Regions from separate parts of the Homo sapiens genome. Here region 2 is linked to region 1. Evidence: fine-mapped expression QTL. A gene starts in region 1. The other region holds a variant in brackets. All regions are shown on one strand. Distances are from middle to middle.

Evidence for each region. PIP is the estimated chance that this variant, and not a neighbour inherited with it, causes the effect.
Region 2: its variant is the best candidate, but not a certain one, in a credible set for the expression of BAG1 in B cells (Fairfax 2012, PIP 0.57).

What each region holds. Positions count from the first base shown.
Region 1 is chr9:33,262,082-33,267,451 of GRCh38, reverse strand. It overlaps BAG1 (BAG cochaperone 1), which reads left to right and starts at 2,744. Exons shown (of 7, transcript NM_004323.6): 1 at 2,744-3,228; 2 at 4,622-4,750. The coding sequence starts at 2,778. It overlaps CHMP5 (charged multivesicular body protein 5), which reads right to left and starts at 2,403. Exons shown (of 8, transcript NM_016410.6): 1 at 2,305-2,403; 2 at 1,338-1,442. The coding sequence starts at 2,373. RefSeq lists enhancers at 2,196-2,435, 2,966-3,555, 3,686-3,735 and a silencer at 2,616-2,935.
Region 2 is chr9:33,381,346-33,386,715 of GRCh38, reverse strand. It overlaps AQP7 (aquaporin 7), which reads left to right. Exons shown (of 8, transcript NM_001170.3): 5 at 175-312; 6 at 521-639; 7 at 850-1,067; 8 at 1,426-3,525. The coding sequence ends at 1,711. LOC124902142 (a long non-coding RNA gene) reads right to left here. Exons shown (of 2, transcript XR_007061462.1): 2 at 4,502-4,925. Among named protein-coding and RNA genes, the nearest start is that of AQP7, 19 kb to the left of the region's middle. RefSeq lists enhancers at 1-851, 2,343-2,843, 2,844-3,344, 4,913-5,370. The variant A/G (reference allele first, on the strand shown) is at 2,256.

The DNA of each region.
Region 1 (5,370 bases):
CCAATCTCTCACCTCTCTAGGTTGAAAACCTTTTTATCAACCTTATCTTTCCTCTTTCTGTTGTTTCTTCATGCACAGTCATCCTGTTAGCTGATTTCAGAACTCACTTTCAAACTGATTCTTTGGTTTCCTACCACCATGGTTTGGGCTTTCATTGTCTCAAATCTAAATGGGCTTTCCTACCTCTGGTTGCTCTTCATTCCACACCATCCACTAAGATGGCTGGGAAAAGCCTTCCTTTTCTATAGAATTCTGTAGATCATTTTATTTGTCTTCTCCAGTGAGGAAGGAAAAACAGGTATTATTACTTCACAGATGATCATAACTCATATTTACTGAGTACTACTTTATCCTAGACATAGTGGTACACAGGTCACATCAATTACCTCATTTAATCCTCATACTGTAAGGTGGGTATTATCTCTGTTTTACAGATGGGGAAAGAGAGGTTCAGTGATACCCAGGCTCACATGGTTAATAAGTTATGGATCTGGAAAAAACAAGGTAGTTCTATATCCACAGTCCATGTGCTTAAACACAGTATTTTATGTTTCTACCTAACAGGAGTGGAAAATAAGTGACTTTATCAAGGTCACAACTAGAAGGCAGTGACAGTGTATTAGAACACTGGTCCCAGATGCCTAGTTCAGTTTTTCCCAGCAGGCCACTCCTTAAGCAGTCTAATATACCAACCTAACCTGACCAGCTTAGCAAGTCATTGATCTTGAGCACAGCCTAGTCTTCCTCTCCAGATTACCACCTTCTCAGTATAATATGCTAATTCTCATGTACATGCTTTTAGACGTGTGACCAGCATCTCTTTCCACCAGATCAATCCCCAGCCTCCCTTCCATATTTGATTGCAAACTCTCCTCCCTAAAGGATACACCCTCACATGTTTTCTCCTTACCAGACTGTAAGCATCTCTTCTGTAGGGATGCTCACAGCCCCTGCACTAGGTCCTATTTCACTTATTTTTTGAGACGGAGTCTCACACTGTCACTTGGGCTAGAGTGCTATGGTGTGGTCTCTGCTCACTGCAACCTCCGCCTCCCAGGTTCAAGCGATTCTCCTGCCTCAGCCTCCTGAGTAGCTGGGATTACAGGCGCCTGCCACCATGCCCAGCTAAGTTTTTGTATTTTCAGTAGAGACAGGGTTTCGCTATGTTGGCCAGGCTAGTCTCAAATGCCTGACCTCGTGATCCACCCGCCTCAGCCTCCCAAAGTGCTGGGATTACATGCATGAGCCACTGCGCCCAGCCGAACTAGGCCCTATTTCTATAGGTGCTAAAACTAGGCTCTGCCAGCACCTTGTGCAGCAGTTGCTGCCCACCTTACCTTTGCAGGACCCTCTCTCATCTTCTTGATCTGATCCTTATACTTCACTAGCTCAGCATCCAATCGAGAAATCTTCTTGTCAATGGATTCTGCTCTACTGTCCACCTTAGGGGAAAATATCAAATGCACTGGTAGTTACTGCAATACACTTATTCCAGAAGGGGCAGGTAGAGAGGAAGGAATACAGAGGAAGAAAAGAGGAGCTTAAGGGGAAGGGTGAAAAACAGTGGTTCACAAAGAAGGGTATTCCCAACCAGAAACCCTGGGCTTTATAAATTATTCTCTTACCCCCCGCCACACTGCCCCGATTCTGATATACCAGGTAGCCTTCAAGTGGGTTGGGGCAGAAAATAATTTGAGAATCACTGAGTTGAGTTGGAATTTCCCTAGAATCAGAGACTAGCCAGGCTGAGAGTTCCTCCAAGAGGCACATGAAATGGGCCAGTGCCAAGTGAAACCAGCTGATTGTAGATCTAATGCCATTCCCTAAATCGGGGATGGTGGCTTAATCTGAGGGGCTAGGGTTCTGAGTTTTGTGTTACTGAGATCCAGGACGAAGGCACAGATATGTTGACCTAGGATATCAAGCTGAGTCCTGATGTGGACTGGGGATGACAGATGGAAGAAGGGTAAGGGATCAGGCAGGATGAGGTGGGAAGGGTGTATGGGCCTAGGGCTGGGTGAGGTGAGAGGATCAAGGCGAGAGCGAGTGGACGGGCAATGGGCATCAAAACGGGTTGGGTGCTGGCAGGGCAAGGCAGTGATGGGGTTAGGGGTTCCCTGGTTTGTGGCGTTAGGAATGACTTGGGTAACAGGGATGAAGGGGAGAAGGTGAGATAGAGAGGGACGACGTGTAAGGGGCCCAGGACCCGAAATGAAGTGGAAGAATATGGGCCCGGGGCTGGGGGTGGGCGGGGTCGGGTGTGTCAGAGGTCCTGAGCCTACTTATGCATGATCAAATGCCCACCGTGCCAATGCAGTCAGTCAGGCTGGGCGGCGGAGCCTTGGGTTTCGCTTTCCCGAAGAGTCGGTTCATCTTGAGCAGCCGCGAAGAAACCCAAACACTAGAGCAAAACCAGAAACGGAAGCAGAGTCACTCCCGCCTCGACTTCCGGCCCCTCCGTGCGCAAGCGCAATATGCCTCCTGGCGTTTCCCGATTCTTTTTCCGGATTTTCAGCCGGGTCTTCCGGGGATGGAGAGCAAAAGGACTTGGTGCTCTCGGAGAGAGCCTGCAGGGGGCGGGGTGTTGGTAGAAGGAGTGGGAGGGGTTTTACTGTAGCAAGGCGGGGCCTCAGTTGAGTGGGTGGGGCCTGGAGGCAACTAACGCGGCATAGGGCGAGGGCGGGGCCGGCAGGCCGGGGCGGGGCTGGGAAGTAGTCGGGCGGGGTTGTGAGACGCCGCGCTCAGCTTCCATCGCTGGGCGGTCAACAAGTGCGGGCCTGGCTCAGCGCGGGGGGGCGCGGAGACCGCGAGGCGACCGGGAGCGGCTGGGTTCCCGGCTGCGCGCCCTTCGGCCAGGCCGGGAGCCGCGCCAGTCGGAGCCCCCGGCCCAGCGTGGTCCGCCTCCCTCTGGGCGTCCACCTGCCCGGAGTACTGCCAGCGGGCATGACCGACCCACCAGGGGCGCCGCCGCCGGCGCTCGCAGGCCGCGGATGAAGAAGAAAACCCGGCGCCGCTCGACCCGGAGCGAGGAGTTGACCCGGAGCGAGGAGTTGACCCTGAGTGAGGAAGCGACCTGGAGTGAAGAGGCGACCCAGAGTGAGGAGGCGACCCAGGGCGAAGAGATGAATCGGAGCCAGGAGGTGACCCGGGACGAGGAGTCGACCCGGAGCGAGGAGGTGACCAGGGAGGAAATGGCGGCAGCTGGGCTCACCGTGACTGTCACCCACAGTGAGTGTCGGGCGCCAGGTGGGCTCCATGCAGGTCCCGAAAGCCCGGCGGGGTCTGTGGGTTTAGTCACGTGTCCTCCAGAAGCGTGTGACCTTGCGCTTGTCCTGGCGTCCGGAAGCGTGGGTTATTGGTTGTGTCCGTGGAACTGTCTTTTGTCCCGGGCTTGTGTCTGTACACTTTTCCATGTGGCCGGTGTATTTTGTCTCTGGTCATTTGTGCGATCCTGGGTGTTTGAGCTTCTCCGTGCTTTACGTCGTGGGCCTGGTTGTGTTTGTGTGCCCGCGCAGTTATTGTGCCCTTTGTGTCAGGCATATATTGGGCCATGTGGTCTACGACTGCTCCGTGTGTGATAAGTCAGAACTTCGTGCATGCCGGGGTGCTCCTCGTGTGCTGAGTGCCTTCTCCGTGTGCGCCGCTTGAGTTGGCCGTGGGTCCAAGCGTTGTACTCTGGGCACCCTTTGGGTCTGCCTACTGTTGGAGTTGACACACCACCAAATGAAGTCAGTACACCGGAGAGCTGAGTCCATGAGGTTTCTCTAGAACCAGCTAGGGGAGGCCCAAGGGTCTGGGAATCTGGAGACCTGGATTCTAGATCCTGCGGTTTTGAGTGACCTTGGGATGGACGGCTTCTTCTAAGAATCCGGTTTCTCCTCTGTGAAGTAGATTTGGTAACCCTGGCTCCTGCTGACCTCACGGAGCTGTTGGGGGAACCAAACCTTGGTGTAATGTACTGTACACAGGCTCCCTCCTTGCTGTCCGCATCCCTGGAAAAGAATTGGCGTCTCTTCTTCAGAAAGAAAGGCTCTGCTGTTCGTATGCATTTGTCTGTTTACTTAGCACAAATCATGGATGCACTCAAGTGTGTTCAGTGGGAGAGACTTGGAGGAAAACAGTCACTTGCCCATTACAGCAAGCGAGACGAGACCAATACAATACAGGGTACAGGGCAGTCAAGCCACAGGAAGCAGATGGCTTGTGATGAAAAAGGTGGGCTTGGGAATCAGCTAGATCTGATATCAACTTCTGATTCCAACAGTTGAGTCTCCATAGGCAGTCCTTAACTTGCCTGAAGTCACAGTTTGCTCATCTGTGAAATAAGAAGTAATAGGTAGATCTACTTCGTGGGGTTTATCTGAGGATTAAATTAGATTATGCATGAAATGCTTAAAATGTTAGCAGATATCATTCATATTGTTAGTTATTATAATAGAGGAAACAGAGATACTTGAGGAGGTCACCAGAGGAAAGCTGGGTGGCATGGGGGCAGGCTCTGTGGAGTAGGTGGCATATGAGCTGGGCCTTGAAGGCTGGGTAAATAAATGTGATAAAGTGTCATCCTATATTGGTGTATGTGAAAGAATCATATTCGTCAAATGCTTTTCTTTCTCCCCAGGCAATGAGAAGCACGACCTTCATGTTACCTCCCAGCAGGGCAGCAGTGAACCAGTTGTCCAAGACCTGGCCCAGGTTGTTGAAGAGGTCATAGGGGTTCCACAGTCTTTTCAGAAACTCATATTTAAGGGTAAGCATTTCTTTTTCTTTCTTTCTTTTTCTTTTTTTTTTTTTGAGACGAAGTTTCACTCTTGTCGCCCAGGCTGGAGTGCAATGGCACGATCTAGGCTCACTGCAACCTCCGCCTCCCGGATTCAAGTGATTCTCCTGCCTCAGCCTCTCAAGTAGCTGGGATTACAGGTGCATACCACCATGCCCGGCTAATTTTTGTATTTTTAGTAGAGACAGGGTTTCACCATGTTGGCCAGGCTGGTCTCGAACTCCTGATCTCAGGTGATCCACCCGCCTCGGCCTCCCAAAGTGCTGGGATTACAGGTGTGAGCCACTGCACCTGGCCAAGGGTAAGCATTTCTTTTCCGGCTTTTCCTTATGGCCAAAGGACAGTTTTAAAACTGCTGAACTTTTCCTAATAGTCACTCTGTTTTCAAACTGGGACAATTTTTATTTATTTGTTTATTCATTCAGTTCTTCAACAGATATTTATTGAGGACCTGCTAGGTATTGGACACTCTCAAACACCTGGACAGGTGTCAGATTTGAAGTCTTATGATGATGGCAGAAATCTCACCATTTTCGATGAAGCTCATGGGCAGTCTTCCCTCGCTAGGTTAGATCATCTTCCCATTATAT
Region 2 (5,370 bases), 120 kb before region 1:
GAGAGTGAAACGAAGATGGTGGCCCCTGCCTCACGGGGTGGTTGTGAGGGCTCAAGGAGAGAGCTCTGTCACGGAGCATGCTGTCATACACACTAGCCATCGTTGTTCTCATACTGTTTGTCACTGTTGTTTGTTCTGCTCTCACTCCCTGACACACTTGCCTGCTGCCCGCAGGAGCCCACATGAACGCAGCTGTGACCTTTGCTAACTGTGCGCTGGGCCGCGTGCCCTGGAGGAAGTTTCCGGTCTATGTGCTGGGGCAGTTCCTGGGCTCCTTCCTGGCGGCTGCCACCATCTACAGTCTCTTCTACAGTGAGTATCCTGCCCGGGTGTCCGCCTCTGGCCTCAGCCGCCTCCTATGAAATATGGGCAGATTGGACCTCAGTGTCCTGATTTGTAAAAAATAGCTGGGAGAAAAAAGCCTTGGAGATCCCCCACCCTCTAACCTATAACCTCATTTCTGGGACCCCGGTGGGGCTTAGTTGGGAGCAGGTTCGCATGACAGTCTGTGTCTCCGCAGCGGCCATTCTCCACTTTTCGGGTGGACAGCTGATGGTGACCGGTCCCGTCGCTACAGCTGGCATTTTTGCCACCTACCTTCCTGATCACATGACATTGTGGCGGGGCTTCCTGAATGAGGTCAGTGGTCGAGGATGAGTATCCCTCCCCCTGCCCTCCACCCCTCAGGACGGAGCCAGCAGGGAGTCCCTCCGGATAGACAGGACAAGAACTCTGGATGGAGACTGTACCGAGACGTGTCTCTGCTGGTGGGCTTGGGTCTGGGGCACTGCCGAGGTCCTGTGGCTTGGGGAGGGGCCCAGGTGAGCTGCCACAGCATCTGCTCCTCAGGCGTGGCTGACCGGGATGCTCCAGCTGTGTCTCTTCGCCATCACGGACCAGGAGAACAACCCAGCACTGCCAGGAACAGAGGCGCTGGTGATAGGCATCCTCGTGGTCATCATCGGGGTGTCCCTTGGCATGAACACAGGATATGCCATCAACCCGTCCCGGGACCTGCCCCCCCGCATCTTCACCTTCATTGCTGGTTGGGGCAAACAGGTCTTCAGGTACTGCCCCTGCCCAGGCCCATTCCTTTGAGTTTTTCTGTGGGTCCCCTGTGTGTTGAGGGGTGGGGGGTGATGTGAGGGGCAGCACAGGAGGGTCCTGCTGAGCCCCCAGGTAGCCTGGGGAGCAGGAGTGAGTCCCAACATTTCCCCAGGCCAGTACAGATACAGATCCTGCACCTGCACTGAGTGTCAACGCTGTCCCTGAATTGGGCTGAGGCTGACCAGGGCCCTGGGTTGGGGGTGTTTCCTGGGGTAGCCTGGGGATGACTCCTCTGCTCAACCTGTCTTGGCCCGAGGTGGATGAGGGTGCTGTCCTGGGCATCAGCCCCCTCAGCAGGCCTCTGCCTCTTGCCTGCAGCAATGGGGAGAACTGGTGGTGGGTGCCAGTGGTGGCACCACTTCTGGGTGCCTATCTAGGTGGCATCATCTACCTGGTCTTCATTGGCTCCACCATCCCACGGGAGCCCCTGAAATTGGAGGATTCTGTGGCGTATGAAGACCACGGGATAACCGTATTGCCCAAGATGGGATCTCATGAACCCACGATCTCTCCCCTCACCCCCGTCTCTGTGAGCCCTGCCAACAGATCTTCAGTCCACCCTGCCCCACCCTTACATGAATCCATGGCCCTAGAGCACTTCTAAGCAGAGATTATTTGTGATCCCATCCATTCCCCAATAAAGCAAGGCTTGTCCGACAGCAGTACCCCCACTTCCTGGGGGCCTCCTGTGGTTGGGCTTCCCTCCTGGGTTCTTACAGGAGCTCCAGGGCTATGTCTTAGCCCAAGGTGTAGAGGTGAGGCACCTCAAGTCTTTCATGCCCTGGGAACTGGGGTGCCCCAGGGGGAGAATGGGGAAGAGATGACCTGCGCCCTCAGTAGGAACAGGGTGAGATGAAAGAACGACAGAATGAGGGATTTTCAGGCACGGGGGAAGGAAGGGTGGTTTTGGGGAACAGACCGTAGCTGACTGGTTGGGGGCCGGCTTTGGAAATACTTTGAGGGGATCCTGAGATTGGACTCTAGACTCTCCCCTGGTTCTTCCCTTCCCTGAGTTCTGGCCGGTTCTTGGACCAGACAAGGCAAGGCCCAAGAATGTAGATCAGAATTTTTTAGCCTTTTTTTCATTAGTTCCTTCCCTAGTATTCTTCTAGATTTTTTTTTTCTTAATCACATGAAATTTTAATACC[A/G]CAGATGTACTATATATCTGTTTATGTTCTGTATATGTTCTGTGCTTTATACATAAAAAAGAGTAAGATTTTTTTTTCACCTCCCCTTTTAAGAATCAGTTTTAATTCCCTTGAGAATGCTTGTTATAGATTGAAGGCTGTTAAGGGGTTGGGCTCCTCTTTCTTCTTCCTGGTGCCAGAGTGCTCCCACATGAAGGAATAGGAAAGGAAGATGCAAAGAGGGAAATCCTTCGACCACATGAAGACACAGGAAGAGGCCTCATAGGGCTCCAAGGGCTCCAGGGAAGCAGGTGCAGAGGTTGGGTGGGGTGAGGGGCCAGGATCCACTGACCCTGGGGCCAGGCAGGAATCACTCTGTTGCCTGGGGCTCAGAAGGCAGCATCACCCATGGTTCCTGTCCTTGCTCATGCATTTTGCCTTTCAATAATTATTGTGCATCTACTGTGTGCAGGCCCTGCCTGGACACTGGGGATGCGCAGTGGATGCGCTGGGCTCTGCCTTTGAGGGTTGCAGTTTAATGGGGGACAGGTAATTATATGGAAGAAGGTGAGTGCAGAGTGGGAGGCTTGGAGGCTGTGGGGCTCGGGGTAGGGGAGCTCACATCCAGCCTCTGGGCCAAGGCCAGGAGGCTTCCCAGAGGAGGAGACAGAGCAGGGTATGGTGGTGGGGGGTGTCCTTTTTGGGGGTGGGAGCTGCACTTTACAGTTTGAGGGGATGGGCAGAGGAGGCTGGGCTTCGTTCTGGAGGTGGGGACACGGTGAGGTGAGGTTTAGAAAGCACACCTGAGCCGCAGTGTGTAGGATGCTGGAAATGGTGGAGATGGGCCTGCGAAAGTGATGACCCAGGAGCAGCAGCCGGGCACCTAACAATGGGTCAGCACCGTGGGCGTGGAGACGAGAGCGGGGATTGATCAATACCGGAGAAGTACAATGTACAGGACTTGGGTTCCATTTGGATGGAGTGGGTGAGGGAGAGGGAGGAGTCAGAAATGGCTTCCGGTTTCCAGCTTGGGCCTGGGGATTGGAGATGTCCCCACTGAGAGTAGGGCACAAGTGAGGAAATGGTTTGGAGAGGAAGATAAGTTACATCATGGACATGCTGAGTCTGAGTTGCCTATGGGACTTGGAATGGGGGGTGGCAAAATGTGTGTGATCTTGAGCAAGATATTCAACCCTTCTGGGCCTTGGTCTTCTTATTTGTAAAATGGCGATAAGAATATTACTTCCCATTTGTGTTGCTGTGAATATTAAATGCGCTACCACATGTAAAATGTTGAGAATCATTTCTGGCTCAGAGTAAGTGCTCAATAAACACAGTTATGCCTTTTATATGGTCTGGAGCTCAGAAGCGGAAGACAGGGTTTCGTGAAGTCATGGCTTTGTGGATGTAGCTAGATTGTGGAGTAATGACAGGAGGGTTGGGGGCATGGCACAAGGTAGGTGGTCAAGAGACACTGGACACAACCCAAATGTCCATCCACAGGGGAACAGATACATACACTGCTGCGCAATTGCACATAATAGAACCCTCTACAATAGCAAAAATTAAGGCACAACAGACACCTGCAACAACACAGAAAAATTCTGGAGGCATAAAAGGTAATACAGTAGCCGGGCGTGGTGGTTCACGCCTGTAATCCCAGCACTTTGGGAGGCCAAGGCGGGTGGATCACGAGGTCAAGAGATCGAGACCATCCTGGCCAACATGGTGAAACCCTGTCTCTACTAAAAATACAAAAATTATCTGGGTGTTGTGGCACACACCTGTAGTCCCAGCTACTCGGGAGGTTGAGGCGGGAGAACTGCTTGAACCTGGGAGGCGGAGGTTGCAGTGAGCCAAGATTGCATCACTGCATTCCAGCCTGGCGACAGAGCTAGACTCGGTCTCAAAAAAAAAAAAAAAAAAAGAGCCTGGTGTAGTTGGGCACCTGTAATCCCAGCTACTCAAAAGGCTGAGGCAGGAGAGAATCCCTTGAACACGGGAGGCGGAGGTTGCAGTGAATGGAGATTGTGCCACCGCACTCCAGCTTGGGTGACAGAGTGAGACTGTGCCTCAAAAAAAACAACAACAAAGTAATACAGTAGACTATATACAGTGTGACACCAGTCTTGTAGCTGAAAAATAAGCAAAAATACATTCTTTGCTATATATATGTATGTAAGAAAACTATTTTAGAAAAAGAAATAATTCCTACAGGCAGATGGAGAGGAACACAGGAGTAGTACAAACTATTAATAATTTTCTAGTTTTGGGTTTGGACATTTGCGGGTTTATTACATGATCGTGCTTGATAACATATAAATGTGATACATATTGTTTGTATGAGATATATATATTATATATATATATATATATATATATATTTTTTTTTTTTATGGAGTCTCTCTCCCGTCATGCAGGCTGGAGTGCCAGTGGTGTGATCTCGGCTCACTGAAACCTCTGCCTCCTGGGTTCAAGCAATTCTCCTTCCTCAGCCTTTCAAGTAGCTGGGATTACAGGCATGCGCCACCACGCCTGGCTAATTTTTGTATTTTTAGTAGAGACCAGGTTTCGCCATGTTGGCCAGGCTGGTCTCAAACTCTTGACCTCAGGTGATCCACCCGCTTCCGCCTCCTAAATTGTTAGGATTACAGGCGTGAGCTCCACCGCCTGGCCAGTATGTAGGTATATCTAAAAACACAAAGAAGGAATAGCTGTAGTGTGAGGACGGCGGAGTTGGGGGGCGGAGTGGGGGGCGCCAGGGGGAGGGGAGGGGTAACAGGTGGGAGCCTGGTGAGATCACAGGGAATCCAGGGAGGATGACTGTATCTGACGTCCCACGGTGGGAGGAGCCGAGCCAGGGGAACCAGGGCTGGGAGTGACCAGGGAAGGGCCCACAGCTGGAAGTCCCCAGCTGTACAGTAGCCTTCCTCGGTAACCTTCTACAAGCCCCTTCCCCCCTCTCACGCTCAGTGGCCCTGTGAGCCTTTCTCATTGTTGGCATTCCAGAGCAGCATGGTCCCAAGGCCTCAGTTACAGCTTAGAGAGGCATATACGGGGCCCAGGGTTCTGGTTCCTACCCTCCTCTGTCCCTCCCTGAGCACTTCAGCCCTCTGGCATCCTCCTGTCCCTGGGA